4 linked regions of the Homo sapiens genome follow. The protein of the gene in region 1 interacts with the protein of each later gene in a pairwise test. Each region holds a gene or a part of one and is shown in the gene's direction. Other genes may lie near its edges.

What was found.
Region 2: the proteins of BTNL8 (region 1) and HHLA2 interact in binary tests that used the Homo sapiens proteins (3 or more experiments, as listed by UniProt).
Region 3: the proteins of BTNL8 (region 1) and MILR1 interact in binary tests that used the Homo sapiens proteins (3 or more experiments, as listed by UniProt).
Region 4: the proteins of BTNL8 (region 1) and TFF1 interact in binary tests that used the Homo sapiens proteins (3 or more experiments, as listed by UniProt).

The regions. Positions count from the first base shown.
Region 1 is NC_000005.10:180,894,512-180,902,171, forward strand, and holds the start of BTNL8 (butyrophilin-like protein 8 isoform 2 precursor), read left to right. Parts: upstream 1-4,647; 5' UTR 4,648-4,799; coding exon 4,800-4,848; intron 4,849-7,660.
Region 2 is NC_000003.12:108,292,505-108,299,547, forward strand, and holds the start of HHLA2 (HERV-H LTR-associating protein 2 isoform a precursor), read left to right. Parts: upstream 1-4,043; 5' UTR 4,044-4,095; exon of another isoform or gene 4,096-6,550; intron 6,551-7,043. UniProt on the Homo sapiens protein: Through interaction with TMIGD2, costimulates T-cells in the context of TCR-mediated activation. Enhances T-cell proliferation and cytokine production via an AKT-dependent signaling cascade.
Region 3 is NC_000017.11:64,444,156-64,452,126, forward strand, and holds the start of MILR1 (allergin-1 isoform Allergin-1L precursor), read left to right. Parts: upstream 1-4,959; 5' UTR 4,960-5,013; coding exon 5,014-5,068; intron 5,069-5,158; coding exon 5,159-5,200; intron 5,201-7,971. UniProt on the Homo sapiens protein: Immunoglobulin-like receptor which plays an inhibitory role in degranulation of mast cells. Negatively regulates IgE-mediated mast cell activation and suppresses the type I immediate hypersensitivity reaction.
Region 4 is NC_000021.9:42,363,524-42,371,443, reverse strand, and holds the start of TFF1 (trefoil factor 1 precursor), read left to right. Parts: upstream 1-4,908; 5' UTR 4,909-4,948; coding exon 4,949-5,033; intron 5,034-6,331; exon of another isoform or gene 6,332-7,920. UniProt on the Homo sapiens protein: Stabilizer of the mucous gel overlying the gastrointestinal mucosa that provides a physical barrier against various noxious agents. May inhibit the growth of calcium oxalate crystals in urine.

The DNA.
Region 1 (7,660 bases):
GAACAGAACAAGTCCTCAGAAATAACACCACACATCTACAATCATGTGATCTTTGACAAACCTGTTGAAAAACAAGCAGTGGGGAAAGGATTCCCTATTTAATAAATGGTGTTAGAAAATTGGCTGGCCATATGCAGAAAACTGAAACTGGATTCCTTCCTTATACCTTATTACAAAAATTAACTCAAGATGGATTAAAGACTTAAACATAAAACCTAAAACCATAAAAACCCTAAAAGAAAACCTAGGTAATACTATTCAGGACATAGGCATGGGCAAAGACTTCATGACTAAAACACCAAAAGCAATGGCAACAAAAGCCAAAATAGACAAATGGGATCTAGTTAAACTAAAGAGCTTCTGCACAGCAAAAGAAATGATCATCAGAGTGCACAGGTAACCTACAGAATGCGAGAACATTTTTGCAATCTATCCATCTGACAAAGGGCTAATATCCAGAATCTACAAAGAAGTTAAACAAATCTACAAGAAAAAAAAATCTGATCAAAAAGTGGGTGAAGGATATGAACAGACACCTCTCAAAAGAACACATTTATATGGCCAACAAACATGAAAAAAAGCTCATTATCACTGGTCATTAGAGAAATGTAAATCAAAACCACAATGAGATACCATCTTGTGCCAGTGAGAATGGTGATCATTAAAAAGTCAGGAAATGACAGATGCTGGAGAGGATGTGAAGAAATAGGAATGCTTTTAGCCTGTTGGTAGGAGTGTAAATTAGTTCAACCATTGTGGAAGACAGTGTGGCGATTCCTCAAGGATCTAGAACAAGAAACACCATTTGACTCAGCAATCCCATTACTGTATATACCCAAAGGATTACAAATCATTCTACTATAAAGACACATGTACACATATGTTTATTGTGACACTGTTCACAATAGCAAAGACTTGGAACCAACCCAAATGCCCATCAATGATAGGCTGGATAAAGAAAATGTGGCACATATATACTATGGAATACTATGCAGCCATAAAAAAGGATGAGTTCATGTCCTTTGCAGAGACATGGGTGAAGCTGGACACCATCATTCTCAGCAAACTAACACAAGAACAGAAAACCAAACAGTGCATGTTCTCACTCATAAGTGGGAGTTGAACAATGAGAACACATGGACACAGGGAGGGGAACATCACACACCAGGGCCTGTCGGAGGGTAGGGAGCTAGGGGAGGGAGGGGTAGCATTAGGAGAATTACATAATGTTGATGATAGTTTGATGGGTGCAGCAAACCACCATGGCACATATATACCTAAACCTGCACTTCCTGCACATGTATCCCAGAACTTAAAATATAATAATAATAATAATAAAGGGGTATTGAAATTCCCCAGTATTTTTGTTTTGCTATGTTTTCCTCATGTCCACTAATATTTGCTTTATATGTTTACACACCTTGATGTTGGTTGCATATTTATAATTGTTACAGTCTGATTAACTTATTTGCTTATTATTACTTAAAGACAATCTTAGTCTCTTGTAACAGTTTTTGACTTCTGGCCTACTTTATCTGACATAAATATAGTCACCCCTGCTTTCTTTTTTTACCGTTTGCATGAAAAAATTCTTTCTTTTCACTTTATTTTTGTCCTTAAGCTTGATCTAGTCTGCCATTGAAGCTCTCTATTGTATTTTTTCATTTCCTTCATTGAATAATCTAATGGCAAGACATCTGTTTAATTTTTCTTGATGTCTATTTCTTTGCTGAATTTCTAATTTATACCATGATTTTTTTTTCCTGATTTCTTTCAATAGTCTATCTATATTATCTTGAATCTTGCTGACTTTTTATTTTTTATTTATTTTTTATTTTTTTAATTATACTTTAAGTTTTATGGTACATGTGCACAACGTGCAGGTTTGTTACATATGTATACATGTGCCATGTTGGTGTGCTGCACCCAGTAACTCGTCATTTAACATTAGGTATATCTCCTAATGCTATCCCTCCCCCCTCCCCCCACCCCACAACAGGCCCCGGTGTGTGATGTTCCCCTTCCTGTGTCCACATGTTCTCATTGTTTGATTCCCACCTATGAGTGAGAACATGCAGTGTTTGGTTTTTTGTCCTTGCGATAGTTTACTGAGAATGATGATTTCTAATTTCATCCATGTCCCTACAAAGGACATGAACTCATCATTTTTTATGGCTTCATAGTATTCCATGGTGTATATGTGCCACATTTTCTTAATCCAGTCTATCATTGTTGGACATTTGGGTTGGTTCCAAGTCTTTGCTATTGTGAATAGTGTCGCAATAAACATACGTGTGCATGTGTCTTTATAGCAGCATGTTTTATAATCCTTTGGGTATGTGCCCAGGAATGGGATGGCTGGGTCAAATGGTATTTCTAGTTCAAATCTTGCTGACTTTTAAAAATGTTATATTATTATTATTATTATTATTATTATTATTATTATTTTGAGATGGAGTCTCACTCTGTCAACCAGGCTGGAGTGCAGTGGCACGATCTCGGCTCACTGCAACCTCCACCTCTCAGATTCAAGTGATTTTCCTGCCTCAGCCTTTTTGGGGAGAGTCATGTTTCTTTGCTTTTTCATGTTTCTTGTGTCCCTGTGTTGATATATGTGCATCTGGTAGAACATTTGCCTCTCCTAACTTATAAAGTAGCTTTTCTAAGAAAAAACTTTCACTTGTTGATAGGTCCTCGGGTGCTGAGTAGGGTGTATCGGCTCTGCTTCTGGCTGGCACAGTAGCGTAGTCTCTGTGAAGCTTCTCAGCTATAATCAATGTCAGTGACAAGTGGATGCCTCAGTGGCCCGTACTGCAGTAATTTGTGGGAGTGGTGGTAGCAAAGTAGATTACACTGAGCTCAGGCACCAAGAGAGCACAACTACTCCACCAGCTCAGGTACAGCTTCCCTCGGGTGGGATGCAGGGCTGGTTTGTGTGCTGAGGGAATAAGACCAGTGTTCTGGCTTGGGCATAGCTTTTCTGGAGGTGGGGCACCAGGCCGCTTTATGTGCCAAGGGAGCACAGCTGCTCCACCATCTCAGACATTGCTTTCCTGGGGCTGAGTCTGGGGCCCCCAGTTAGTGTGCACACAAGGGGGTATTGTTGCCATTCTATTGCGCATGCTTCTCTGGGGTCAAGGTGCTTGGCTCATGCTTGAGAGGGTACAACTGCTTCACCAGGCCAGGCTTGGCTTCCTTGCTGGGTTGGACTGTTTGGTCCTTGGGGGCCAGAGCAGCCTGTAGGTTCAGAAGCCTGGGTCATGACCGTTCCACTGGGCCTAGGCCTAGGCTTCGAATGGCCATGGGTGGGGCATAGCTGCCACTGGAATGGAGAGGATACTGTGCCTTCTCAGCAGCTTCATAAAAAGGTATTTTGGTCTATATATCCTTGGTAAATCTGTATTTCTGAGACAGCATGAGATCAATAATTTTCTATTCTACTCTCTTGCTTACAACATTCAACAACTCATTTCCTTTTTTTTTTTATCACAGAGTAATATTCCATTGTATAGATGTACCATAGTTTGTGTATACATTCTATGTATCATTATTGAATGATATCTGGTTGCAAACATTTTTGGCAATTATGAATAAAGCTGCTATAAACATTCATGTGCAATTTTTCATGTGGACATATGTTTTCAAGTCATTTAGGTGAATAAAAAGCAGTGCAGTTGCTGGATTAGGTGATAAAAGTATGTTTAATTTTGCAGGAAATTGCTGAACTGTCTTCTAGAACAACCGTACCGTCTTGCATTCCTGTCAGCAATCAGTGAGAATTCCTGTTGCTCCGCATCCTCACCAGCATTTGGTGTTGTCAGTGTTCTAGATTTTAGACTAAATGCAGTGTTTTCATTTTGTCCTATTCTAGATGCTAACTTTTATTGTGATTTAGTCTCGTGAGTTGTTTTAAATTGTTACATAAGAATTTCTTAGTGTATAGAGTTTCCTATGTTTTTGAATTACTTTTTAATTTTAATTGCATTATGATTAGAGTATGTTTATTTTGATGGTTATCTGTGGAAATTTTCATTCTGATCTAGTTAAGTGGTGACTTTGTGAGTTTCCGTGTGCTTAAAAAGACTGCAAATCTCTCATTGTGGCTGCCCTGGAACTTAGTTTATATAATAAATAAGTTTCCTCATGTCTGAACCTGCCCAGGCACCTTTCCCAATGTATCAGATGTTTAACACTAAGGATCTGTTTTGTTCTGGAAAGTTATTTTTATCTGGCCTCATGATTACAGTCCTGGCCCTGAACTTCAGAGAATGGAGGGGTAAGCAAAAGGACCTCAGACTGTGCCAGGAAATGTCAAGTCACCTGCTGTAGGCTACTACTAATGGAGCATGGCCTATTTACTTGGACACCAAACTATCCAGTGCTAACATGAGGTTTTTCAGGACTAGATCCCATGGCCATACAGCCCTGCCTGCCAGATTGGACGTGAAAAGTATTTCCGCATCTGACATTCCTGTTTCACCCACACAGGGCATCGTTTTGCCCAGGACAAAGTTCACCTCCAATCTTATCCACACTATTTCTATCTTTGCTTCCTTGATAAGATATAGACATTTATGCAGTGGTTCAAAGTCTAGAGTCCCTACACTTCTGGTACATGACAGCTGTGTCTCGATGGAGTAGACTCTCAGAACAGCGCAGTTTGCCCTCCGCTCACGCAGAGCCTCTCCGTGGCTTCCGCACCTTGAGCATTAGGCCAGTTCTCCTCTTCTCTCTAATCCATCCGTCACCTCTCCTGTCATCCGTTTCCATGCCGTGAGGTCCATTCACAGAACACATCCATGGCTCTCATGCTCAGTTTGGTTCTGAGTCTCCTCAAGCTGGGATCAGGTAAGACTCATCTTTGTTTCCTCCTTACTAACTAACAGTTTGAGTTCTTTAGCTACAATGGTTGCAGCATAATGGAATGAAGGCATCTTTGTCGTTTCCATTCCTTTGGCTTCTCCTAGCCTCAGCCTGGGGAAGGATCAGGCGCTGTGGAAACAATTATAGTAGCCCCCAAATAATGGAAACACGGGTGTTGAAGACGCACCGTGATCGTTGACGGGGACACACCTAACGTGTTAAGGTGAATAAATTCAGTGTTTCTCCCAGATGGGCTGAGTGGTGTAGGCAGGGTTATTGGAGCACCAAGGTTGCTGACATGGATGTCCATCTGGGAAGAGACACAGTTAGGATTTTTGGGGAAAAGACAATGTATCCAGCTAAAGACATGCTGAGTTAGAAATGTCTGTGGTATGAGACACGAGGGTGGAGGAAGGTGTACAGGTCTTGAGGTGAGAAATTAGCTGAAACCTGGCATATTCTGGGAAGAAATCCACTCTTCTTTCTCCTTCCAGTTACTGTTAACACAGAACCTAGTATATAGGATGTTGAGTGACTGAATACAATTCACAGAGGAAGCTTGAGGTTGGGGTAGAATGCTGGTGGCTAGATGGTCAGTACCCAGCCACAGAAGATTCGATTGACTGTGTTCACTTTCTGTCTGTGAAGGTTCATCCTGCCACCTGTCCACCTATATCTTTTTTGCTAAATGAAGCTAAGAAAACAGAAATAAGGGCAATCAAAACATAGAGCATGTTTCCTTAAAACAAAAACCCATATGTGTTACTAACAGGAGACGCTCTCGTTTCAGTTTGTTTTCATTTATTTTCTGACGAGCTTCTTTGTTTCCCTTCTGTTTCCGGGTGAGGCAGCAGGACATCCTGGAAATGATCTTGGAGACAGAAACATTTTATTTTTAAAAACTCTTATTTCATTTTCTTGTGAGCTTTATTGTTCACAGCTTCCTTAGGTGTTGGTTTGCTTATGATGACATGGAGATACGATCACATTCCTGCTGGGGCTGTGGTGAGGACTGCATGAGCTTGTGCATGTAGAGTGCACACAGCTGCACGGGTGCATGGCATGTTGCAGCAACAGTCTTGTTCCTTTCTTATTTTCAAGGGAAGGAAGTGGAAGGAGTGAAAGGAGATGTTATAGGCAAGAGAGGTGACAGCAGCAAGGGCTGGCCGGAGAAATGGAGGTACCCTGAAAAATGTTTCCTTGCCTCAAGAGCCCCACACAGCCCTGAAGGCAGCATCCATAGCAGCCCAGCTGGCATACGCTGGGTCCCCAAACCTGACCTAAGACAAGGGCCTTCCTGCCAGTGATTCGTTGAGCAGGTGATTCTGGGAAACAAAGTGAGGGAGTGGAGAGAGTGAAGCCAGTAGGGGGAAAGCCATAGAGGGTGCGCTAATGAGCGTTGCTGCGGTGGCAACTGGGACCCAGTCCCACTGGGACCTTTGGAGGAACTTTATAGATGGTGGCTCAGAGTCATTCCAACATCTACTGTCTCCTTTCCCCACTGGGTGAGATGTGCCGCCCAGGACTGCTAAAATCGCAAACCTTCTGAGCTGCCTTGTGCCAGGGCTAAGTAGGTTCCAAGGGTGGCAGGAAGCCCTCAGCAGAGAGGCAGAGGCCAGGCTCCAGGGACGGAGCTGTCAGCAGGCAGGGAAATGCCCATCCCACTGCAGGGGGACTCAGGGTTGGGTGGTGAGGAGCAGGGCCTCAACATCTGCTACACCAGGTCAGAAGCTGGTCAGACACCAGGCTGCAAAGTCATGCCTCATTTAATAATACTCTTAAAGATGCATGAGTGAAATACATTTCAGCAAGATTTATAAAATGTAATTAAACTAAAAAATTAGTGCTAAAATGAAAAAGTATCCACTGATCTAGAAATTCACACATGTAATTCACCTTCCCTCTGATGCACATGCAGACAGCACACACAGGTATATCCATATACCATAAATGGATACATGTGAATGAATCAAGAGACACTGCCAGTCAAAGGGGGTGGGTACTTAGAAGGTGAAGGGAGTGGGCCTCCATAGTCTGTGGTCTCTAAGAAGCAGTGTAATCCTTACAGGGTAGTAAGAGTGATTTACACCAGGAAAATTACTCAAATGATTGTTAAACAGATGAGCAAGTAAGAAAGGAAATGGGGCTCACCGTTCACATGCATAACTGTGGAGCCTGTTCTGTGTGACTGGCTCTGTGCTGATCAAGTGGGTACTATGCTGAGCAAGAAAATCAGGCCCTGTCCCCAGAGAGCCAAGAGCTGTGCAGGGGAGGCTCACAGAAAACATGTAATTGTCACACTTGAAGCAAGACAATGAAGAAAGTTTCAAAAGCGAGGTGAGGACATACATGTACCAAGAATTTTTTTTAAAAAAAATGAAGGCAAGACATGTTGACAAAGCACTAGGCGAACCACCTTTCAGTGCTAAAATAAAGTGGAAAAAATTACTACACAAGCGTAAAAGGCACATGCTATGGAAAATATAAGTCACACGTGAACGTGCTAAAGAACAAATTTACAGAAAACAGACTGCAAAATCTTGTTTCAGTGTCACAGCATGTCTTTCAGAACTTGGCAGAACAAGCAGATTTTCAAAAAAAACTAAGGAAGTACAAATAATTGTGTGCGCCATGGGCAGAAATGTAACATTCCTCTATAGTAGCCATAAAATATTGATATAATATTGTGCTTGAAGGAAACCTTAACGAATTGCCGCAAACTGGAGACTTTATGGCCCATACTCTTCTCTGGGCCATTAGAAAGACGTCAACTTTGGTTTTCAGCAAGGACGATGGA
Region 2 (7,043 bases), on another chromosome or scaffold:
CAAACTATGAATCTGACAAAGGTCTAATATCCACCATCTATAAGGAACTTAAATTTGCAAGAGAAAAGCAAGTATTTTATTTTGGGAAGTGAATCCAGGGAACAGGGGAGGGGCCCTTGAGAAGAGTAAAACAGGAAGGAGGGAGAGCTAATCCAAGAGTGTGCTGTTCAGCTGGCTATGCCTGTGGGTAACTGGGGCTTAGTCTTGGTGGGGATGCTTTAAGGAACCACATAGAAGACACTTCAGGATTGTCAACCAGAGAGAAAACAGGGGAACAGCCTGACCTCCATAGGCTAAAATTAACACTGGAGGGTTTTTATTTTCTCTGTTTTAGGAGTCTCACTAGAAAGCAGAGAATCCCTGGGATAACAAGCAAGACAGACGCATAGTACAGCTGGGATGAAGTGCTGGTAAGGGCACCTGTGTAGAGCCTGTTGCCTCAACAATGTCCAGGACAAAAAGGTGAGCCAAGGGGATGTGAGAGGAGTATGGCAGATGTTTAATGTAATGCCCAACTTTGACACTTATTCATTAGGTGTATCATTTGTTCACTCTTAGCACCTGTTTCTTCATCCTAAATGAAGCAGGAGGATCACTTACCCTGGCTGTTTCCCAGAATGATCATTAAGAGAGTTGTGAAAGCACTTTGAAGCAATTTAAAAGCTAACTCACTGCAAAACTGAAGGTGGTTGATGCTATTCTAGACCTGAATATGAAGCAATACCAGGAAAACAGAGAACTAAGAATAGATCACAGAGAGCATCTAGAAGGCCTCAGGAAGTCCCTGCACTGATGTGGCAGTTCTGTTGTTACATTAACTAAGAAAAAAATCAACACAGATGCCAAAGAAAGTAGAGTATATTTGGGAAAAAAAGAATTGCAATTCAGGTACACTGAATTAGGGCAACACTAAATAGTGTCCTTTAAGGCAAGTTCAGGTTTTTAATAGGAGATTTCTTGAAAAAGTTGTTTTGAGGGGCAATTCACTGGCTGGACAGAAATCCTAAATTGCAGAGCTGTTCTGAATTGTTAGTTAATTAGGGTACTCCCAGCTGAGAGATGTTGAAGTCCAGTGGATTCTGACTTAAGGTGTTATCCAAGTCTGTTGGAACCTTCTGTGGCTTAACATTTAGCAGGTATGAGTGCAGTCCTCTCTTGATCTTCCAATTCCACTTTAATGCCTAGGCCTAAATTACTTTATGTCCTTTCACAGCAACAATGGGCCAGGAAGGCATGACATGCACAAATGATGACAGGCACCACACTTAGCATCTTGGAAAATGAATATGTGAGTTTAACACCTCAAGGTTTTTAATAGCTGAAATATTAGGAGACTTTTTTGCTGGAAATAAATATTGATTGAACTGATTCAGTAAATGCCTAATATATGAGGACCGTAATTCCTTATCTCCCTGTCAGACCAATTTAAGATCTACATTTTAGCCATGTCTGTCCACCTCTCAGCTTTAGAGTTTAAATTCACTTTCTTCTGCAGTATTTCGACAACTGAAAGACTCCAGTTGGATGACTAATTTCAGCCCTATTTGATCTGAGGATGCAACCGGTAGCTGCTCTCACATCCTCAAGTTACATGACAGTTATACTTTTTACTTCCTCAGAACATTTGCCAACTTAATAAATGTTCAATGCCAACATTAAATTCTCCCCTGAGCCTTAGTGTAGGTACATGTGCATAGATATAATCAGGATTAACCATATTTCATATGCCGTTTCTTCTCCCAGTCACTTGAAGACATCGTGGAGGCACTTTGCAGAAGAGAACCAAAAGTGGTGTTGAAATGGTAACAGATCCCAAAGCCTAACAGTTGAGCTCTTGCAAGCAGTGGCCCTACAGGTTCCCCTAATATAGGGTCCTAATGGTTCATCCTACTTCCTTTCAGGTACCCCTTCCTGAAATGAAGAATATGTTGCAAGGGAAAGGTTTGTAACCTAAAACTGTTGATCTAGTCTTCAATAATGGCATACATATCATAGCCACTTTCTCTGTGACATAAATCTCAGAGAAATTGTTCTTTCCTTCCTCAGCCATTGATATTATTTAAAACCGTGATTCTATTTTTACCTTCAGCTTGAACAATCTCTGCATAACAGGTATGTTTGTATGCATACGGCATTTCTTCCTAAAACTTCAAAAATCTTCAAAAAATATGTAATTCTTCTATTTTCAAATTCCGTGAGAGTCTGCTCTCCTCATGTGTATGCTTTAGGAGCTCTGCTATTTCCCTAAACTAATATTACAGTGGTGTGATGTACCATTAACTACATGGCCATGGAGATTCAGAGGTGAAAGCAGGGATTGCCTGCATCTTTTAAGTCCCAGTTTGATTTTGATTTCATTTCATAATAGATCTTATTAATGATAAAAGTTGGCGGCCGGGCGCGGTGGCTCACACCTGTAATCCCAGCACTTTGGGAGGCCGAGGCGGGCGGATCACGAGGTTAGGAGATTGAGACCATCCTGGCTAAACCAGGAACCCCAGCAAAACCCTATCTCTACTAAAAATACAAAAAAATTAGCCAGGCGTGGTGGCGGGCGCCTTTGGCACAGCACACAAATCCCCTGATCATATAATCATAGGGCCCTGTCTAGCTTTATAGCCTTTGGACATTACTGACCACATCAACTTTAACCTCCTGCCACACATGCACACTCAGGGGAGAGGGCAAGGTACATTTGGGGAACTCCCCCTCCTCTTCCCCATCTCTTCCTTGACTTCCTTCTTCTCTAGTCAGAGTCATCCATAGTGAGCCTTCTGCTGCCCACTGGAAACTGGGTTGAAAGTCCCAGCTACTCGGGAGGCTGAGGCAGGAGAATGGCGTGAACCTGGGAGACAGAGCTTGCAGTTAGCCGAGATCGTGCCACTGCACTCCAGCCTGGGCGACAGAAAGAGACTCTGTCTCAAAAAAAAAAAAAAAAAAAAAAACGAAAAACAAAAACAAACAAAAAAGAAAACGTTGGCGTGGGTGACTTTGGGGATTCTAGGAAGAGCCCTGGCGCTTTCAACCCAGTTTCCAGTGGGCAGCAGAAGGCTCACTATGGATGACTCTGACTAGAGAAGAAGGAAGTCAAGGAAGAGATGGGGAAGAGGAGGGGGAGTTCCCCAAATGTACTTTGCCCTCTCCCCTGAGTGTGCATGTGTGGCAGGAGGTTAACGTTGATGTGGTGAGTAATGCCGAAAGGCTATAAAGCTAGACAGGGCCCTATGATTATATGATCAGGGGATTTGTGTGCTGTGCCAAGGCTTGGATGGCATCCTTTGTTCCAGACAGAAGGGTCCTGTTTATTGTCCTCCTAAGGTAATTTTTGTTCACTTTGTAACTTTTGCTCCCATGCACTCAGCAAACAGATATTGACCAGCTACTATGTGCTAGTAAGTAAGTGGTAGTTGTTTGGGATACAATAGTGAGTAAAGCATGACTCTTAGCATCTGTTGTATGTGCATGCATGCCATGCATGTGACACTGAGGGAGAGAGAGATTAAATGATATGACAGCATAGAGGCTGGGCACTGCCCAACTTTCCATGTGGAATTCAGAGAGGTCTTTATTTCTCTGAAGTTGAGTTTAAGCTTGGGTGTTCTAGCGACCAGAACTGTAATGGGAATTGTAGGTGCAGATGAACTTTGTGTAGGGTTATGGTTCTTTCTCACAGAACTATTGGCACCCACTGCAACCAGCTACACAATTTTCTTTACAACTCTGCAGCAAGCTAGACAGGTCACAGGCAGTCCAACCTCAGGAGGTTGCCTGTATCATGTTGATGGTGAAGCTGACACCATAGCATGGAAACCAGAGTCCACTGCTCCCACAGCTCAATGCTTAGCTGTTTCAATATGTTGTCTGAAACTGCATCTTCTAATTCCTGGACTTTTCAGATCTGTACTGACTCAGATCTGGGTGGGGCTTAGTTTGAAGGAGGGAGTCCTTGGTGATGATGTGATTTCCTTGGTCTGTCATAGGTAGCAAATCAAACGTACCTTGGACTTTACTCTCTGAGAAACTCATAGCTGAATTCAATGTTTATTCTTATGGACTACTTAGCATTTGACTAGACGGTATGAATTTCTAAGTAAGGTAAGGATTTCTTTCTAAGTTGTTTATACCTAGAACTTAAAAGTGGGCATGAATAAATCAAATATGGGTGGTTTTTAGTTGACACTTTATTTTCCCGTTAGGAAAAAATTAGTGACTGATCTTTTAAATTGATTTAGTGCATATACTATGTATTGTGCATATGCACCAAACAAATACTTAGTAAAAGGTTGTCTTGAAGGAACATGCTGATATATTTCAAATAAAAGAACTTAGCAAAAATGAGGAAAATACCTAACATTCTGGTAAGACAGTGAAAGAGGGATGAGCAATGTTTGTTTTGAAAATTATCTGCGAACTTTAAAAAAATCTCTAAGAGTGTATTCTTACTTGTAATTGTTCATCTAGTTACACTACAGAGTTTTATTAGCTGCTCCAAGATGCACTGCGTTCCATTCTGTGGTGGAAACAAAAGGACCGTAGTAGTGGTTATCTAGCAGAAGAATCGTGATCTTTGAATTCTAATACAAGAAACTTAGAAGTCTCCTAGATATTTCCACTGTCTCAGGGAAGAATCATTAAGTTTATGTCATTTTTTAATAACTAAAACAAGATTCAAAAAGTTAAGATTCAATTCTCATTGGGTTTCTATTGTTTGGGACTTTGGATAATAGAAAAAAATATGAACAGGTAATTTAGGTTTTTTTGTGTTACTGGTACCTGACAAAACAAACTTGAGCTTCCCATTTCCTAGAAACTTGGAGGAAATAATTTCTGTCCAGAATGGCAAATTGGTGTCATATCCCATTATAAGCATATTTTAATCAAAAGATGCAATAAAGTGTAGTGGTCAAGATCATAGTCTCTAGAGTCAAGTAATCCTTGGTGCATTTACCTGCTTCATCATTAACCAGTTGTATATTTTTCTCAGAGCCAGTTTCCTAATCTGTAAAATGGGGGTAGACTAGTATTGCTGTGAAGATTAAATGAAATTTATTAAAGTGCTTAGCAAAGTGCCTGGTATGTAGAAAGTGTTTAATAAATATTATTATTTCAGAATATAGATGTAAAAGACAAATGATTTCCTATATAATCATATTGAGTAGCCTGAAAGTTTGGTGGCTCTTAAATAAATCCATGAATGAAGGCTCTGCCTACTTTTGGCGTGTGGCCCACCAGCATGTTCTATCAGTTGGCCTGAGCTGGGAAAGAAACCAATTCCTGTGTTGAGTTTTCCTCCAGGTGCTTAAAATAGACCATAGCTTAATATTTTGATCATTAACCAGTGATTCTGGGTGGCTTCTCCTTGCTCTGGTCAGTGACCGGTGTAGGTCACGTAGTACAGCATTAAACAAGGTGTTTTTCCTCCTGAGGTTGTCATGTCAACTCTAAATTCCCAGAGACTTGCCTAGGAGTGGAGAGTTTGTTCTGAGTTACATAACCAGCATTCTCTTTGAGGCTTTGAATGTCTGTCTAACTGACTTCTGACTGCAGGCATGCAAACTTTTCCCCTGCCTAGTAGGAATGAATACCCCTTTTCCAAGTATCTGCATAGCAGCGACCCAGGGGCTATCCAAGAGCCAGTTGCTTCCTGACTTAATTTCTGGGAAGACCAATTGCCTATTCAAGAGAAATTCCTTCCTCCTTATTCTTCTGTCAGATGAGACTAGCTATTAGGTATTCCCTATCTAGGACTCTGACCTGACTCTCCTAGAAAAGAAAATGAGGATCCAAGTCCATTCCGTTTAACTGGGGCTATAAACATATGCCACCAGAAAAATCCTGCTATTCTGGCTTATTATAACTTTAGGTTCTCCTTTCTAACACAATACTATCTTTATAACATGTACACACCTTTCCTTGGTATTCAGTTGTAGTGTTTATATGTTCAAAATCCTTCTAATTTAGCCCCAACTAAAGTTTCCAGTATATATTTGCAGGCCCCTTTTACTGCACCATCTTCAGTAAAATGCATATTTCTCTTTCTTCAGCATAGGCTTCACCCTTAGAAGCTTGCTTTTCTCTGGATATTCATTTCCAGCAGGTCTCAGAGATAATGTACTGTATTGCATCTTTTTCTGTTGGAGACTAGAATGCAGTTAGCAGGTGCAGCTTGTTATAATAACTGCAGATTCAGATTTTTTCTCTCTGTAAATACTGTTAAATGTCCCCTCAGAGGCTCATTTTAAAATTGAGTAACGAATGGGGGCTTGTTTTTCCTTAGTCCTCGATCTTGGAATCTTAGAGTCTGTCATTGCACATTGCTGCTTACCATTTAGAGTTCAAACCACTAATTCCCAAGTGATAAGAGATTAAGATACAAACCTGAGATAGGCAAATGTACACTTGCAGCTTCCTTGCTTTAATACTTCTGTTTCAGGTGGGATGTCTTCTCCATGGCTATCCAGGTCTGTCCTAGACACCACCTTCGAGAAATGAGATCCTTTCTATCTAATTTAACCTAGATTAGAGACATCACCAAGAACACCTTCTGAAGGTGAAAACCTTTTACCTTTTCTTTTTGTCCCATACTCTATATTCCTTAACTGCAATCACTACAATATCCTGTCAATTACACAAAATTAATGTTACTATGACCAACTTTGATAATATTTCTATTTCCAAATTGACAAATTATATTCCTAATCTAATTACATTCATGCAAAGCTAGTAGCTCTGTAGTTATATCAACTTGGCAACAAGGAAAATAAACTTAGTTTAAAAAAAGACTCAAAAAGTTAAATCACTTTTGTAAAAGACCCAGAAAAAATATATATATATAATCATATAACTATTATAATACATAAATATATAAATGTTATATAAATATAATACATATTTATTATAGATAATAAGTGAAAAGGGTGAAATTGATGGAGTCAGAGCTTAGAAATCTTGTTAGTGTGGTGGGAGGAGAGAAAGGTGAGGAGTAGTCAGATTATGAAGAATTCCGTCAGAGTAGTATGTTCTGAGTTGCAAATTCAGGGGTG
Region 3 (7,971 bases), on another chromosome or scaffold:
GATAAACTGCTTCTAACAATGCATGCTATACCCAACAAAGAATGTATGCAGGGGACGGGGTGCTAAAGACATTCCTGGGGGCAGGGACAAGCGGAAATGAATTATATTCATGCCTATTGGATATTTTCTTTGGATTTTGTATGCTGTTTCGATTTTTATAATTTTTTTTCTTAAGGAAAAAAACACATATTTTTTTCTTAAGGAAATAGACACTGGCCAGGCGTGGTGGCTCACGCCTGTAATCCTAGCACTTTGGGAGGCCGAGGCAGGGGGATCACCTGAGGTCAGGAGTTCGAAACCAGCCTGGCCAACATGGTGAAACCCCATCTCAATTAAAAATAAGAAATAAGCCAGGCATGGTAGTGCATGCCTGTAATCCCAGTTACTTGGGAGGCTGAGGCAGGAAAATCGCTTGAACTGGGGAGGCGGGGAGGCGGAGGTTGCAGTAGGCCGAGATTACACTATTCCACTCCAGCCTGGGCGACAAAAGTGAAACTCTGTCTCAAAAAAAAAAAAATAGACACTGTTGTTGCAAGCCTATGGGTTGCCTGAGGGCAAGTATGGGCTCCAGGTAGGTCTTTTGAGGAAAGGATCTTGTTTTTATCTTTCATGTAAAAGTTACTTTATCTTTCTCAATACCTCAGTGGTTTTGAACCCAAGCCTCTGGGAAATGTCCCAACCTCCTGTCCTCACTCAGTGCACCATACTACCAGGCTTAGAGGAGGCTCTTTCTCCTTATGGAGGACCAAGGAAAGGTGTTGTCAAGGTCTGCCATTATCCCATCTTTCCTCCTTCTCCATAATAGGAATATTAATGCAGAAAGAAATAATTGAAAGAGGAGCGGCCAGGCGCAGTGGCTCATGCCTGTGATCCCAGCACTTTGGGAGGCCAAGGAGGGCGGATCACCTGAGGAGTTCGAGAACAGCCTGGCCAACATGGTGAAACCCCGTCTCTACTAAAAATACAAAAATTAGCCAGGCGTGGTGGCAGGCACCTGTAGTCCCAGCTACTTGGGAGGCTGAGGCAGGAGAATTGCTTGAACCCAGGAGGCAGAGGTTATAGTGAGCCAAGATCATGCCGTTGCACTCTAGCTTGGGGGACAAGAGCAAGATTTCATCTCGAAAAAAAAGAAAGAGGAGCTAGAATAAGAAAATAAAAGCTGGAGAGAATGTGGAGAAATAGGAACGCTTTTACACTGTTGGTGGGAGTGTAAATTAGTTCAACCATTGTGGAAGTCAGTGTGGTGATTCTTCAAGGATCTAGAACTAGAAATATCATTTGACTCAGCAATCCCATTACTGGGTATATACCCAAAGGATTATAAATCATGTTACTGTAAAGACATATGCACACGTATGTTTATTGTGGCACTATTCACAATAGCAAAGACTTGGAACCCACCCAAATGTCCATCAATGATAGACTGGATTAAGAAAATGTGGCACATATACACCATGGAATACTATGCAGCCATAAAGAAGGATGAGTTCATGTCCTTTGCAGGGACATGGATGAAGCTGGAAACCATCATTCTCAGCAAACTATCACAAGGACAGAAAACCAAACACCACATGTTCTCACTCATAGGTGGGAATTGAACAATGAGATCACTTGGATACAGGGAGGGGAACATCACACACTGGGGCATGTCGGGGGGTTGGGGGTTAGGGAAGGGATAGCATTAGGAGAAATACCTAATGTAAATGATGAGTTTATGGGTGCAGCAAACCAACATGGCACATGTATACCTATGTATCAAACCTGCACATTGTGCACATGTACCCTAGAACTTAAAGTATAATAATAAAAAAAATAAAAATAACATTCTACTCTCCAGATATAGCTATTGTTAACATTTTGAGAAAATATCCTTCCAGATAGTTTTTCTCTTTCTTTCTTTCTTCCTTTCCTTTCTTTTCCTTTTTTAATTTAGAGACAAAGTCTCATTATGAGTCTCCCAAAGTGCTGAGAATACAGGCATGAGCCACTGTGCCCGGCCTCCAGATAGTTTTTCTATGTATACAAATTATGCACTTTCTTATTTAGAAAAATGATTTATGTTATTACAACTGTTAATAATACCTTTTCTCTTTTCTTAAGTATATTGTGATTCTCTTACCACATCATGAAATGTTCTTCTACATCACCATTAAAAATTCTTTTTTTTTTTTTTTTGAGACAGTGTCTTTCAAAAGTGCAGTTCTGAATCAAGGCAGCCTTGAAGTCTTGTTATTATGGCAAGCCCTCCAGTGCCAGGAGAACTGAGGTAGGAGTAAACTCAGATCAGCCTTTGAAATAGAATGTGTGAGGCCAGGTGCAGTGGCTCATGCCTGTAGTCTCAGCACTTTGGGAGACTGAGGTGGGTAGATCACTTGAGATCAGGAATTTGAGACCAGCCTGGTCAACATGGCGAAACCTCATCTCTAGTAAAAATTAAAAAAATTAGCTGGGCGTGGTGGCAAGTGCCTGTAATCCCAGCTACTTGGGAACCTGGGAACTGTGGAGGTTGCAGTGGCCCGAGATGGCGCCACTGCAGCTATTACTCCAGTTTGAAAATACTAGAAGTTGCCAATATATATTTTTTCCATTGCCAGACTTGTCTGCAATTTGTACTGGATCTGATAGAGAAACCATTTCCATGGGTCTATATGAAAATGTGGAGCCGGGGGTAGTGGCTCACGCCTGTAATCCCACAACTTCGGGAGGCCGAGGCAGGCAGATCACCTGAGGTCAGGAGTTCGAGACCAGCCTGGCCAATGGGGTGAAATCCCGTCTCTACTAAAAATACACAATTTAGCCAGGTGTGGTGGCACGTACCTGTAATCCCAGTTACTTGGGAGGGTGAGGCAGGAGAATCCCTTGAACCCAGGAGGTGGAGGTTTCAGTGAGCCGAGATAGCGCCACTGCACTCCAGCCTGGGCAACAGAGCGAGACTCCATCTCAAAAAAAAAAAAAAAAAAAGAGAGAGAAAGAAAATGTGGGTGCGGGGAATGATTCTATGGTTGTCTGTTCTTTTCCAGCTGGCCAGCAGTGGTAGCCAAAAAGTGACAGGATGCTGATGAAAAACATTGCAGACGTGAAGAAAAGAAAAAGTTGATGGAATTTTGCACATGTATCTGACAGTTCACCCATCCAAACTTTTATAAAGTGCTGTAAAGTTGTTGTAGTAAGGGTGGGGCATGGTGGTTCATGCTTGTAATCCTAGCACTTTTGGAGGCCACACGCAGGAGAATCGCTTGAGCCCAGGAGTTCAAAACCAGCCTGGGCAATATAGTGAGACTTCATCTCTATAAAAAAGTTAAAAACCTAGTAGTGTATGGTGGTTTGTGCCTGTGGTCCCAGCTACTAGAGAGGCTGAGGTGGAAAGATAGTTTGATTCTGGTAAGTGGAGATTGCAGTGAGCCAAGATGGTGCCACTGTGCTCTAGCTTGGGAGACAGAGCAAGATTCAGTATCAAACCTCCTAGCTAGAGGATGCTAGCTAGGTGACGCTGAGTCAATAAGGAAGGATTTGGTTACATCTTGGGACCTAAGGTACAGAGATGAATGTCCCAGCTCAAGGCTGCCCCAGCCATTCAACTCCTTGCTTCCTCTCTTGGTGGACCTGTCAATTCTTGCAAGTGTCAACCAGCTGTCTTGCCCACCTAGCCCTATAGTCATACCTTTCTATCCTTTTGGTGATCTCCACTCCATCAAGAAGTGGCTCTGCACATTCTATTTCAACTGACTTTTTTTTTTTTTTTTTGAGACAGAGTTTTGCTCTATCACCCAGGCTGGAGTGCAGTGGTGCAATCTTGGCTCACTGCAACCTCCACCTCCCGGGTTCAAACGATTCTTCTGCCTCAGCCCCTCAAGTAGCTGGAATTATAGGCACGCATCACCACACCCAGTTAAGTTTTTTGTATTTTTACTAGTGATGGGATTTCGCTGTGTTGGCCAGGCTGGTGTCAAACTCCTGACCTCGGGTGATCCGCCTGCCTCAGCCTTCCGAAGTGCTAGGATTACAGGCATGAGCCACCGCACCCAGCCTGCACGTTCTATTTCAAAGGCTGATCTAAGGTAACTCCTACTTCAGATCTCCTGGCACTGGAGGGCTTGCCGTAATATCAAGTCCCCAAGGCTCCCTTGATTCAGAAATCACTGAGGCAGCAGCACCTTGTACAGATATTTCTCAGCCTTCACTGTGCGTAAGAATTGCTCAGGGCCCTTGTTTAAAAAAAAAAAAATCAGCGTCCTGGACTTGAAACCCAGTAAGTCTGGAGTGGGGTCTAGGAATCAACGTTTAACAAAAGCAGGCATTTTTGGCCAGGCACAGTAGCTCACACCTGTAATCCCAGCACTTTGGGAGGCTGAGGCGGGAGGATCACTTGAGCTCAGGAGTTTAACACCAGCCTGGGCAACTAGACCCCTGTCTTTACAAATAAAAATAATTAGCCAGTCCTGATGGTGCACACCTGTGGTCCCAGCTACTCAGGAGCCTGAGGTGGGACGAGCACTTGAGCCCAGGAGTTTGAGGCTGCAATGAGCTATGATCACAGCACTCCACTCCAACCTGGGTGACAGAGTGAGGCCAGTCTCAAAAAAAAAAAGCAGGCATTTTTGATACAATATTTGTATGTATCTGCTTAAGACAGTCGGTTTGCTTCCAAAGACTAAATCAAACTTCCACCAAACTCCTTTTGGCATAGACTGAGTCCAGAGCAAGGAGATCAGATGGGTTTACATAGACAATGTAACAGTCAGATTTACCTCTTCTCTTTCCCAGCCAGCATGGGACGATGTGGGGGTGTGGGGGGGTGGGGGGGGCGGGGGAGTGGCAATCTACCAAATATCTCTCTTCTTACAGGAACTCACAGAGGAAGACAGATTGGTCGAACAAACCAGTATTATGCAAACCTCATCCAAACCCTCTGATTTCCTTAACTTGGCTAAGAAAAAGAGGAAGTTCTCCGAGTTACTCACCACTGTGGTTCTACTATGCCTTCTGACCCCGTCTTGGACTTCAACTGGGAGAATGTGGAGCCATTTGAACAGGCTCCTCTTCTGGAGCATATTTTCTTCTGTCACTTGTAAGCCCCCCTTATCATTCTGAGGCTCGAACCTCCAAGCCAACGTGTCATGTGGAAAGTGAGCTTTATCGTGTTCCTTTTCTGTTTCAGGTAGAAAAGCTGTATTGGATTGTGAGGCAATGAAAACAAATGGTAAGTTTCATTTACTTCTTTCTTATTGAAACCATTTTCACTGAAGTGGTGAGACAGTCTGATTGCAACATAAGCGTCCATTCAAAAGTGTTTCTGAGCTTTTATGAACAACCAAAGAACAGTCTTTTCAATTATCTATCATTTAAAATAAAATGATTTTAGGGAGGGGATTGCAGCATTTTTTTCTGAGACTCAGTGAGAAAAATAATGAAATTTGTTTTCACAATGAAAGTTTTCTAACTTTCCTTGTTATTGTTGTTTTATGGTTGTTGTGTTTTAACTAGAAAGCCAACACACAGGCTGGGTGTGGTGCCTCCGGCCTGTAATCGCAGCACTTTGGAAGGCTAATGGGGTAGGATTGCTTGAGCTCAGGAGTTTGAGACCAGCCTGAACAACATAGTGATACCTCGTTTCTTAAAAAAATAAAACAAAATAAAAAAACCCACAGAATTATTGTGAAATAATTCAAGCAACACTAGAAATATACATTGGGAAGTGGTCTAACCTCTGGTTCTACTAGTTACTAGCCAGCAGCCTGAGCTCATGACATACCCAGTTTGACCTTAATTTCTTTCTTTCTTTCTTTCTTTCTTTTTTTTTTTGAGATGGAGTCTCAGTCTGTCGCCCAGGCTGGAGTCAGTGGTGCAATCTCGGCTCACTGCAACCTCTGCCTCCCAGGTTCAAGTGATTCTCCTGCCTCAGCCTCCCGAGTAGCTGGGACTACAGGCGTGTGCCACCAAGCCTGGCTAATGTTTTGTATTTTTTGTAGAGACGGGGTTTCACATCGTTAGCCAGGATGGTCTCGATCTCCTGACCTCGTGATCCGCCCACCTTGGCCTCCCAAAGTGCTGGGATTACAGGCGTGAGACACTGTAATTTATTTCATCTGTGAAGTGGGCTAATAAAAGCACCTACCTGGTAGGCTAGTGTGCAGATCAAATGAGACAATCCCTGCTCCTCGTCACAGTGCCAGGCATATGGTAAACCATCCGTAAGTGATAGCCAAGGTGGTGGTTGTTACTGTATAAAATGTAAAAGTTCTGTTACAATCCTCCTCCAATTCTTCTCCCCTTCCTATCCAGAAGCAGCCGTTATCAACAGTCACTTTATATTCGTTATCTTTTTTTGTTTGTTTGTTTTTGAGACAGAGTTTCACTCTTGTTGCCCAGGCTGGAGTACAGTGGCACAATCTCGGCTCACTGCAACCTCCGCCTCCTGGGTTCAAGGGATCCTCCTGCCTCAGCCTCCCGAGTAGCTGGGATTACAGGCACGTGCCACCATGCCTGGGTAATTTTTGTATTGTTTTTTGGTAGAGACGGGGTGTCATCATGTTGGCCAGGCTGTTCTTGAACTCTTGACCTCGTGATCCTCCTGCCTCTGCCTCCCAAAGTGCTGGGGTTACAGGCATGAGCTACCACACCAGCCTTAGCTCCTCTTTTTCAACAGCTGCATGGTATTTTAAGACTCAGCCATGATTCGTTTAACCATCCTTATTTATTGCCCTGCTTTTTGGGGGCAATATAAACAATGCTACAATAAACATCCTTGTACACAACGTCCTTTGTGGATGCATGAGAGCTTGAAAGCATCTCTGTAGAATGAAATTCTAGAATTGAAATTGCAAGGTCATAGGGCATACACATTTAAATTGTTACAGACCCTGCTAAGTTGCCCTCCCAACAAGGCTGATCGTATCCTATCAGTCACCAACGGTGGGTGAGTTTCCCCACCCACTCCCCAGTGGTGGATATAATCACTTTTACTTTTAAATTTTATTTAGGGTTTTTTTTTTTCTTTCTTTCTTTGAGACAGAGTCTCTGCTCTGTCGCCCAGGCTGGAGTGCAGTGGTGCGATCTTAGCTTTCCGCAGCCTCGACCTTCCAAGCTCAATTGATCCTCCCACCTCAGCCTCCTGAGTAGTGCCATACAGGTACGCACCATCATGCCCAGCTAATTTTTGTATTTTTAGTAGAGACAGGGTTTCACCATTTGCCCAGGCTGGTCTCGAACTCCTGGACTCAAGAGATCTGCCTGCCTCAGCCTCCCAAATTGCTGGGATTACAGGCATGAGCCACCATGCCTGGCCAATCATTTTTAAACTTTGTACCAATCTGATGAGTGAAAAATGATATCTCAGTGTTGTTTTAATTTGCAGTTGCCTCATTACTTGTGAAGTTGAGCATCTTTTTCATGTTTACTGGCCACAAAAGCTCTAGCATTCCTAGATAAAAAAAACTTAGGGATGGCTATTTGGTTGGAAAGGTAGTTTAGGTCTTGTCTTAAAGTTGAGTTTATATGGCGGGGCACAGTGACTCACACCTGTAATCCCGGCACTTTGGGAGGCTGAAGCAGGCAGTCACTTGAGGTCAGGAGTTCAAGACGAGCCTGGACAACATGGTGAAACCCTGTCTCTACCAAAACTACAAAAATTAGCTGGGCATGGTGGTGTGTGCCTATAGTTCAGCTACTCAGGAGGCTGAGGCAGGAGGATCAGTTGAGCCTGGAAGGTGGAGGCTGTGGTGAGTCAAGATGGTGCCACTGCGCTCCAGCCTGGGCAACAGAGTGAGACTCTGTCTCAAAAAAAAAAAAAAGTTGAGCTTATATAAGACTGAGAAAATGTTAATTGTCCAGATCAAAGAGTGGGAGGAGAGTTTACTGCATTTTTAAAAGCATTTTTGAAGAGTCTAAATCTGTCTTCCACCCAAGCCATCCATTGGTCCCAGCTATGTTTTTTTTTTTTTTTGTTCTGTTTTGTTTTTTAAAAATTAGAGA
Region 4 (7,920 bases), on another chromosome or scaffold:
GTGGCAGTAGTGTGTGAGCAGTGGCCGGAGAGTGTGAGTGGTGGTCAGAGGGAGTGCACGGTGGCCAGAGAGCATAAGTGGTGACTGGATGGTATGAGCGGTGGCTGGACGGTGTGAGCCATGGCCGGAGGTTTTGAGTGGCACCCGAAGGGTGTGGCCGGAGGGAGTGAGCTCTGGCTGGAGGGAGTGGCCAGTGGCAGGAAGGTGTGAGCAATGGCCAGATGGTGTGAGGGGTGGTCAGAGGGAGTAAGCGGTGGCTTGAGGGAGTGAGTGGTGGCCAGAGGGTGTGAGTGGTGGCTGAAGGGTGTGGGCTGTGGCCGGAGGGAGTGAGCAGTGATCAGATATGGGACCTGGACGGAGGGTTTGAGCGGTGGCTGGAGGGTGTGGGCAGTGGCTGGAGGGTGTGGGTGGTGACTGGAGGGAATGAGCAGTGGCCACAGGATGTAAGACCTGAACGGAGGGTTGGAGTGGTGGCTGTAGTGTGTGAGCAGTGGCTGGAGGGTGTGAGTGGTCGTTGGAGGGAGTGATCCCTGACTGGAGGGACTGAGCAGTGACCGGAGGGTGTGATTGGTGGCCAGAAGGAGTTGGCGGTGGCTGGAGGGTGTGAGCGGTGTCCGGAGGGAGTGGATGGTGTCTGGAGGGTGTACCACCAAGGACGCCTTTCTGATCGTCCTGCGTCCATGCTCAGTCCTGGATCTCCTCTTCCCTTTCTGGGTGTGTGTGGCTCTGGAAGAAGCTGGCTAACCTGACGAGGTTACCGCCCTACTGTCACCATGGAAGCATAGCGCCTCAGCCACTCTCCCTGGAGGAGCCTGGCCTCACACTCCAATCATTCCCCTCTCCTTCTGGGTTAATTTGAGGAATGTGGTCCCGCTCCATGCTGTGGGTCTGTGCCTCAAGTTCCCTGGCCAGGAAAGTACCTGCCTCCTCCAATACCTGAGGACCCCAACCCCAGGGCCTCAGCTGGGTGTCCTTGTAAAGGGTCCCTGGGGTGGCAGTTGCTTTTTTGACCAGAGGCCTGGCAGGAAACGGGCTTCACCACAGCGGATCTGGGCAATGCGAGGAGAGTGAAGACTGTAAAAGTCTCCTTGCGGCTGGTAAACCCCCCAGGCTGGGGCAGGGGGGTGAGGGGTCTGCTCTGGGGCCTGGGGAAGATGGTGTGTGGAGAGGACGCCCACCTGGGCTGTGGCTGAGAGGGGGACGTGGCCTGTCCCAGGTGATCCCAGGAGGGATCCTGGAGGAGAGCCCGGATCCACTTCCTCCCAAACTCCTCCCTCCCTCCAGGGCCACCTACAGAACCCCCTCCTGCCAAGGCACAGGTCAGGGGCAGCGGGCAGGTGGGGAGCGTCAGGAGGAGACTGACTCCCCAACTGCGCGTCCCCCTTGTGGGGAATCTGGGCGGCTGCGGGGCCCCCCACTGAAAATGAGGGGCTCTCGCCAGACCGCAGGGAGGTCGGCTGGGCGCAGGAAACAAGCAATGCCTGCACAGCCACAGACGCCCCCACGGCCATAGATGCCTGCCGGAGAGGGTCTGAGGTGCGGAGTCTTCAGATGTCCTGTGGCCCAGCCACTGCGTCTTTCAGATAAGAAAACTAAGACCCAGAGCTGTGAAAATGCTGGCACAGGGTCCCCCACTGATGATGGACTGGCGCTTGCCTCTGCATTCTCTCCCTCGCCACACTGGAATTGTCTTCAACAAGTTTTTATGGATAAGGTTATGTATGGTGTGGTCTTGGGTTCCGCCCACTCTCACAGGGATAAAGCTCTTGTCCCGAGAAACGGAGAGTCCCGGGGGCAGCTCCAGCCGCTCCAACCCTAATGTGGGAGGCCAAACTCCGGCACTTGGTAGTTATCTCACAGCTCTCCCAAGGAGATAGGAGCTGGGCTTTCCAAGAAAGCAATTGCAAACATGTACAGAATGCTAGAACAACATCCGTGAATCTACGCTGCCCCTCATTAATGGATGCTAACCTTTTTACCTTATTTCCCTCAGATTTTCTTCAACAAAAGAAAACATTACGGAGACATCGAAGGCCCCTTTGCGCCCTACCCCGCCACCTTTTCCTGCTTCCTCCTTCCTAGACAGACCCATCATGCTGAAGTCAGTGTCTCGTTCCTGTCTACACTGTCATCATTTTGTTCATCTGGATGCAGTTCCAACAGTATATCACATTGTTTCACATAGTTTGGAAATCTACATTATAAATGATATCCTACTTTACAAACCATTTTAACGGATTTTTTCACTTCGCTTTGTTTTCAATATTTCTCATTATTTATTCATTTTCATCTTCTGAAAGATACTCACATACATACATATATAATATATGTAAAGTATAATACATGTATGCAATTAGTTCTCTATATTCATGGGTTCTACATCCATGGATTCCAGTAATGTCAGATCAAAACTGTTTTAAAATCCAGCTGGGCACAGTGGCTCACACTTGTAATCCCAGCACTTTGGGAGGCTGAGGCGGGTGCATCACCTGAGGTCAGGAGTTCGAGACCAGCCTGGCCAACATGGTGAAGCCCTGTCTCTACTAAAAACACAAAAATTAGCTGGGCGTGGTGGCACATGCCTGTAATCCCAGCTACTCAGGAGGCTGAGGCAGGAGAATCACTTAAACCTGGGAGGTGGAGGTTGCAGTAAGCTGAGATCATGCCACCGCACTCCAGCCTGGGCGACAGAGCAAGACTCTGTCTCAAAAAAAAAAAGTATTTTAAAATCTTATTTACAACATCTTAAAGATCAAAACTTGGGTGTGCCGCAAGTCAAGTACTATGTAGAATCTGCAGAATGAAATGAGGTGTAGGTATTGCATCAGGTATTATAACTAACCTAGAGATGGTTAAAGTGTAGGAGAGGATGCACGTGGTTTCTGCGCACTATGTCATTTTATACCAGGGACTTGAGCATTTGTGGATTTTGGCATCCCTGGGTGGGGGGTCCTGAAACCAGTCCCCCAGGGGTACTAAGGGACGACTGCATTGTATTTTAAGTTCATTTTCCCTTTCCCTGGTTAATGAATATTTATTTTGCTTTTCTTTCCCTCCTTTCCTTCCTTCCTTCTTTCCCTGTTTCCAGCTGTTACAAACAATGCTAAAAAGAATATCTTTGCCTGTGTTTTCTTCTGCCCAAGTATGAACATGTTTCTGGGATTAAGAGACCAGGCCTGGAAACAGAAGAATTTGCTGAGCTGTAAAATCTGTATGGCTTAAACCTCACCGAACACTGCCCACCTTTTCTCCAAATGATTGTGCAATTTACATCCCATTTCCAAGAGCCCCCATTTTGATCCGAGAAATTAGAGCAGCGAAAACCACCGTCACTATGAGCACCACCCTGGGCCTGGTGCCCCCGTCCTGTTTTCAATAAACTTAAGCTGACCACAGAGGACACCAGGCCTCGGCCCCTCCCTGGGTCCTGCGGTCAGGCCCCTCCTGGAGACCCTGGCCCAGGAGTGGAGACCCCGGTGCAGGAGTGGCAGCCCTGGAGGAGGGGCTGGGTCCTGGGATGGAGCGAAGAGGAACATGGCCGCCCCCATTCTGGCCCAGGCTCCCCTCCCAGAGGGGCTGCAGAAATGTACTGACTAGGTCACCCAAGAAAAGATAGTACCTTTGTTAGGCTAGCATGCATTTTCCTCAGGGCCTAATTTCTCACTGAAGAAGAAAAGATTTCTCCTGTTGTCCATTTCTTCATGCAGCTCTTCAACAGCTGTTTCTCGAATGCCAATCAAAGCCACTGTTCTAGGGTCTGGGGCCACCTCAAGGCACTAGGAGATGAGGACTTCTGCTCCCATGCGCCCTCCCGTCTGCTGCAGGGAGGAGTGCAATGAATAAATAACCAACATAATGTGTCAGTCACTTGTTTTATCCACCAGGAGGTAATAAGAGCTATGAAAGAGAAAGCTCCGAGCAGGGGAGGGGAGTGAGGCATGGTACAGGAGAGCAGGAGGCTGTCCTCTAAAATACAGGAGTCCAGGGGACCAACTGGGAAGGTGTGGGAGGGGGAGGGAGGGAGCCCCATAGACACAGGGGAGTGAACCACGTTCACTTTGTCAGTTTTTGATGGCAGCTCGTATATACTATTTTTTTCTCCCTCCTGCCCCCAGCCCCTCCCAGAAGGAGACTTAATCTGTCGCTCAGGCTGGAGTGCAGTAGGGTGATCTCGACTCACTGCAACCTCCGCCTCCCAGGTTCAAGTGATTCTCCTGACTTAACCTCCAGAGTAGCTAGGATTACAGGCACCCGCCACCATGCCTGGCTAATTTTTGTATTTTTTTTTTTTGTAGAGACGGGGTTTCGCCATGTTGGCCAGGCTAGTCTCAAACTCCTGACTTTAAGTGATCCGCCTGCTTTGGCCTCCCAAAGTGTTGGGATTACAGGCGTGAGCCACTGCGCCAGGCCTACAATTTCATTATTAAAACAATTCCACTGTAAAAGAATTAGCTTAGGCCTAGACGGAATGGGCTTCATGAGCTCCTTCCCTTCCCCCTGCAAGGTCACGGTGGCCACCCCGTGAGCCACTGTTGTCACGGCCAAGCCTTTTTCCGGCCATCTCTCACTATGAATCACTTCTGCAGTGAGTACAGTATTTACCCTGGCGGGAGGGCCTCTCAGATATGAGTAGGACCTGGATTAAGGTCAGGTTGGAGGAGACTCCCATGGGAAAGAGGGACTTTCTGAATCTCAGATCCCTCAGCCAAGATGACCTCACCACATGTCGTCTCTGTCTATCAGCAAATCCTTCCATGTAGCTTGACCATGTCTAGGAAACACCTTTGATAAAAATCAGTGGAGATTATTGTCTCAGAGGATCCCCGGGCCTCCTTAGGCAAATGTTATCTAACGCTCTTTAAGCAAACAGAGCCTGCCCTATAAAATCCGGGGCTCGGGCGGCCTCTCATCCCTGACTCGGGGTCGCCTTTGGAGCAGAGAGGAGGCAATGGCCACCATGGAGAACAAGGTGATCTGCGCCCTGGTCCTGGTGTCCATGCTGGCCCTCGGCACCCTGGCCGAGGCCCAGACAGGTAAGGCGTGCTTCTTCCTGCTCTGTGGGGCCACAGCCAGCTCTGGCAGCCTCCGCCAGGAGCCACTGTTTTACATACATATTTTTGAGCACCTGTTTTGTGCCAGGTGCTGTTCTAGGCCCTTAAAAGTATATCCAATTTACAGGATCGGCAAAAGCAGGTGGAGAGTAACTCAGGGTGGCAGGGCCCCCGGAGACCTTCGAGAAGTGCGACGAGGAGGGGGCTGCCTTCAGTCGGGGCTGTTTTCCTGTGTTAGGAAGACTATACAATCCTCCCAAGTGTCATGTTTCAAAGAGGAAGTGTTGGCGTGGGGTCTCAGAATAGTGCTTTTGACTGTTCATGCCAACATCTCCCCCAGGGGCAGACCCTCCCAAGGCCCATCCAGATAGGCCCAAATGCCGGTCCCAGTGATGGCCACCTGGGAGACCCTCTCCCACAGGCCCGAATGCCCGTCCCAGTGGTGGCCAACTGGGAGACCCTCTCCTACAGGTTCCTGGGCTCCCCTGGGATCCATGCTCTGGGAGTCAAAGCCACCTCTCTCATGAGTGCGTGGCTGGCAACCCATATTCCCTGGTGTTGTCAAGTGGATCGGTTGCCCTGGGTCCTTCTAGGGAGTGGAGGAGGAGGCCATTCTTGCTTCCTTGGGAAGTGTTTGCATCTCAACTCCTTTACCTGCAGAATGGATCAACGGTCTGCCCTAGGGCTGTCAGGAAATGCTGTGTGGCAGCATCTGCGACTTGCACTTTGCCAGCTGTGGGGAGCTGAATAACTTATTTGCCGTTATTAGGTACAGTTTCAAGGTGGGGGCAGGAGAAAGGGCTTTCTACGTTTCCAAAGCAAGGGTTTCCAGAGAGGCCTGAAGAGGGAGCGCCCAGTGGTGCTGTCCGTGCCCCCACTGCCCTCCAGCCACCTCTTGATCTCTGCTGTGGGGTACCGGGCCTGAGGGGTGGGCTTGGGCAGCGTAGAAGAGCAGCCAGCATTGGGCTGCAGTGGGAAGACCCCCAAGCCCATGGCAGGGAGCGGGGGAGCTTTGGAACCCGAGAGAGGAAGTGGCCTCGGTGTACAGAACGAACTGGGTGGGTCCCCGTGCTGGCCACCCCCAGGCCCATCTGCCTGCGCCCTTGCCCCCACCCCAGCCCCCAGCTCTGCCCCCTGTGCTGTGGGATCACAGAGGCCGTGGCAAACTCCCCTCCCCACCCCACACACCCTCTGGCTCAAGGCTCAGAGCGTCTTTGCGGGTCACTCAGGTCCATGATCCTGTTACAACTGAAATCTAGAAAATTGTGATTACAGTTTAGTGCATTCGTGTGTGGAAACCATTTCCATTTATTTCCATCATGCGACAAAGACAAAGCGGGTGGGCAAGACAGAGTCTGCCGGAGGCAGAGCACCGGGGCTGGAAATCTTCCTCCCTGAGGAGGAAACCCCCCCGACCCCCAGGATGATGATCCTCCCTCACCACGGGGCCTCTCTTGACCCCCACAGTGTCCCGGGGGTGGGCGATGATCACCTTCACGTCGCGATGGATCCAGACCCCAGGAGGGCAAGGTTCCCATGGAAGCTGCTGGGCAGCGGGAGCTGAACACGGATCCTTCCCAGCAAGCCAGGAACACTTTCTCCAAAGACATCTCGAGGCAGTCCCTGATAGCAAAGCAGACAAGAGAACAGCCCCTCTCGGCCTCCCCTGGGGCGCCCTCACCTGAGCCAGTGTGGCCAGACTGAGTTCCTCCCCTCCTATGCCCCAAGGCAGGGACAGGGACCGGAGGGTGCTCTGGGCTCCTCTTTCACCCCCTGCTGCAGGCTGTCAACCACCAGATCCTAATAGGTTGCTTTCTGAGACCTTTGATTCCGCGGAGCTCAGAGCCTGAAGCTCTGGTGTTAGAACCTCTTGCATAAGATCCTGCGGCAGCCCCCAGCCAGCCCCATCTGTCCACGTGTCTTCCTCCTCTAGATCCCTTTCCTCACTGCCCTGCTTCAAGCTGTTTCACAGCTTGTACCCTCTGTCGGCTCCTCCTAGACCACCCCACCCGGTCCTCTCACCTTACCTGCAATGGGTTTCCACCTCCTGAACACACCTGGGTCTCTGGAATGGCCTTTGCCCATGCGGCTCCATCTTCACCTGGTGAACCTCCTCCTGCAGGGAGCCCCCCTGCTTTGTTCAACCTGCTTGTCATTGGCCTCTCCGGGGAGTGCCCTACCCCCGTGGTTACCCTGGGCACCCTGGGACGATGGCCTTGCGTTGTCTCGCACATGTTCTTGCCTTTCTCCTCCATCAGATCCTTAGACTCTTTTTTTTTTTTTTTTGAGATGGAGTCTTGCTCTGTCACTCAGGCTGGAGTGCAATGGTGCGATCTTGGCTCACTACAACCTCTGCCTCCTGGGTTCAAGTGATTCTCCTGCCTCAGCCTCCCAAGTAGCTGGGATTACAGACGTGTGCCACAATGCCCGCCTAATTTTTTGTATTTTTAGTAGAGATGGGGCTTCACCATTTTGGTCAGGCTGGTCTTGAACTCCTGACCTCAAGTGATTCACCTCCTTCAGCCTCCCAAAGTGCTGGGATTACAGGCATGAGCCTGGGCCCAGATATTTAGACTCTTATTAATGACTTCTCTGGTTTTAATTTCTGGGTCTCTCTCACCTGGCACAGTGCCTGGCTTTTGCCATGCTAGCTCCCACTTCTCATGCACACAAATGGTGCTCAGTAAATATTTATGTATTGAGTAAAATTTAATAATCATTTGTTGAAATTAAAAAGTGAATAAATAAGTTACCTAGAAAGATGCAAAGTCCACAAACCTGGGGCACCTTGCATTTTCCCTGAGCGTAATGTTTGCACATCAGGATGTGAGGACCACGTCTCCCTCTCATGTCCTGAGGGTTTTATATC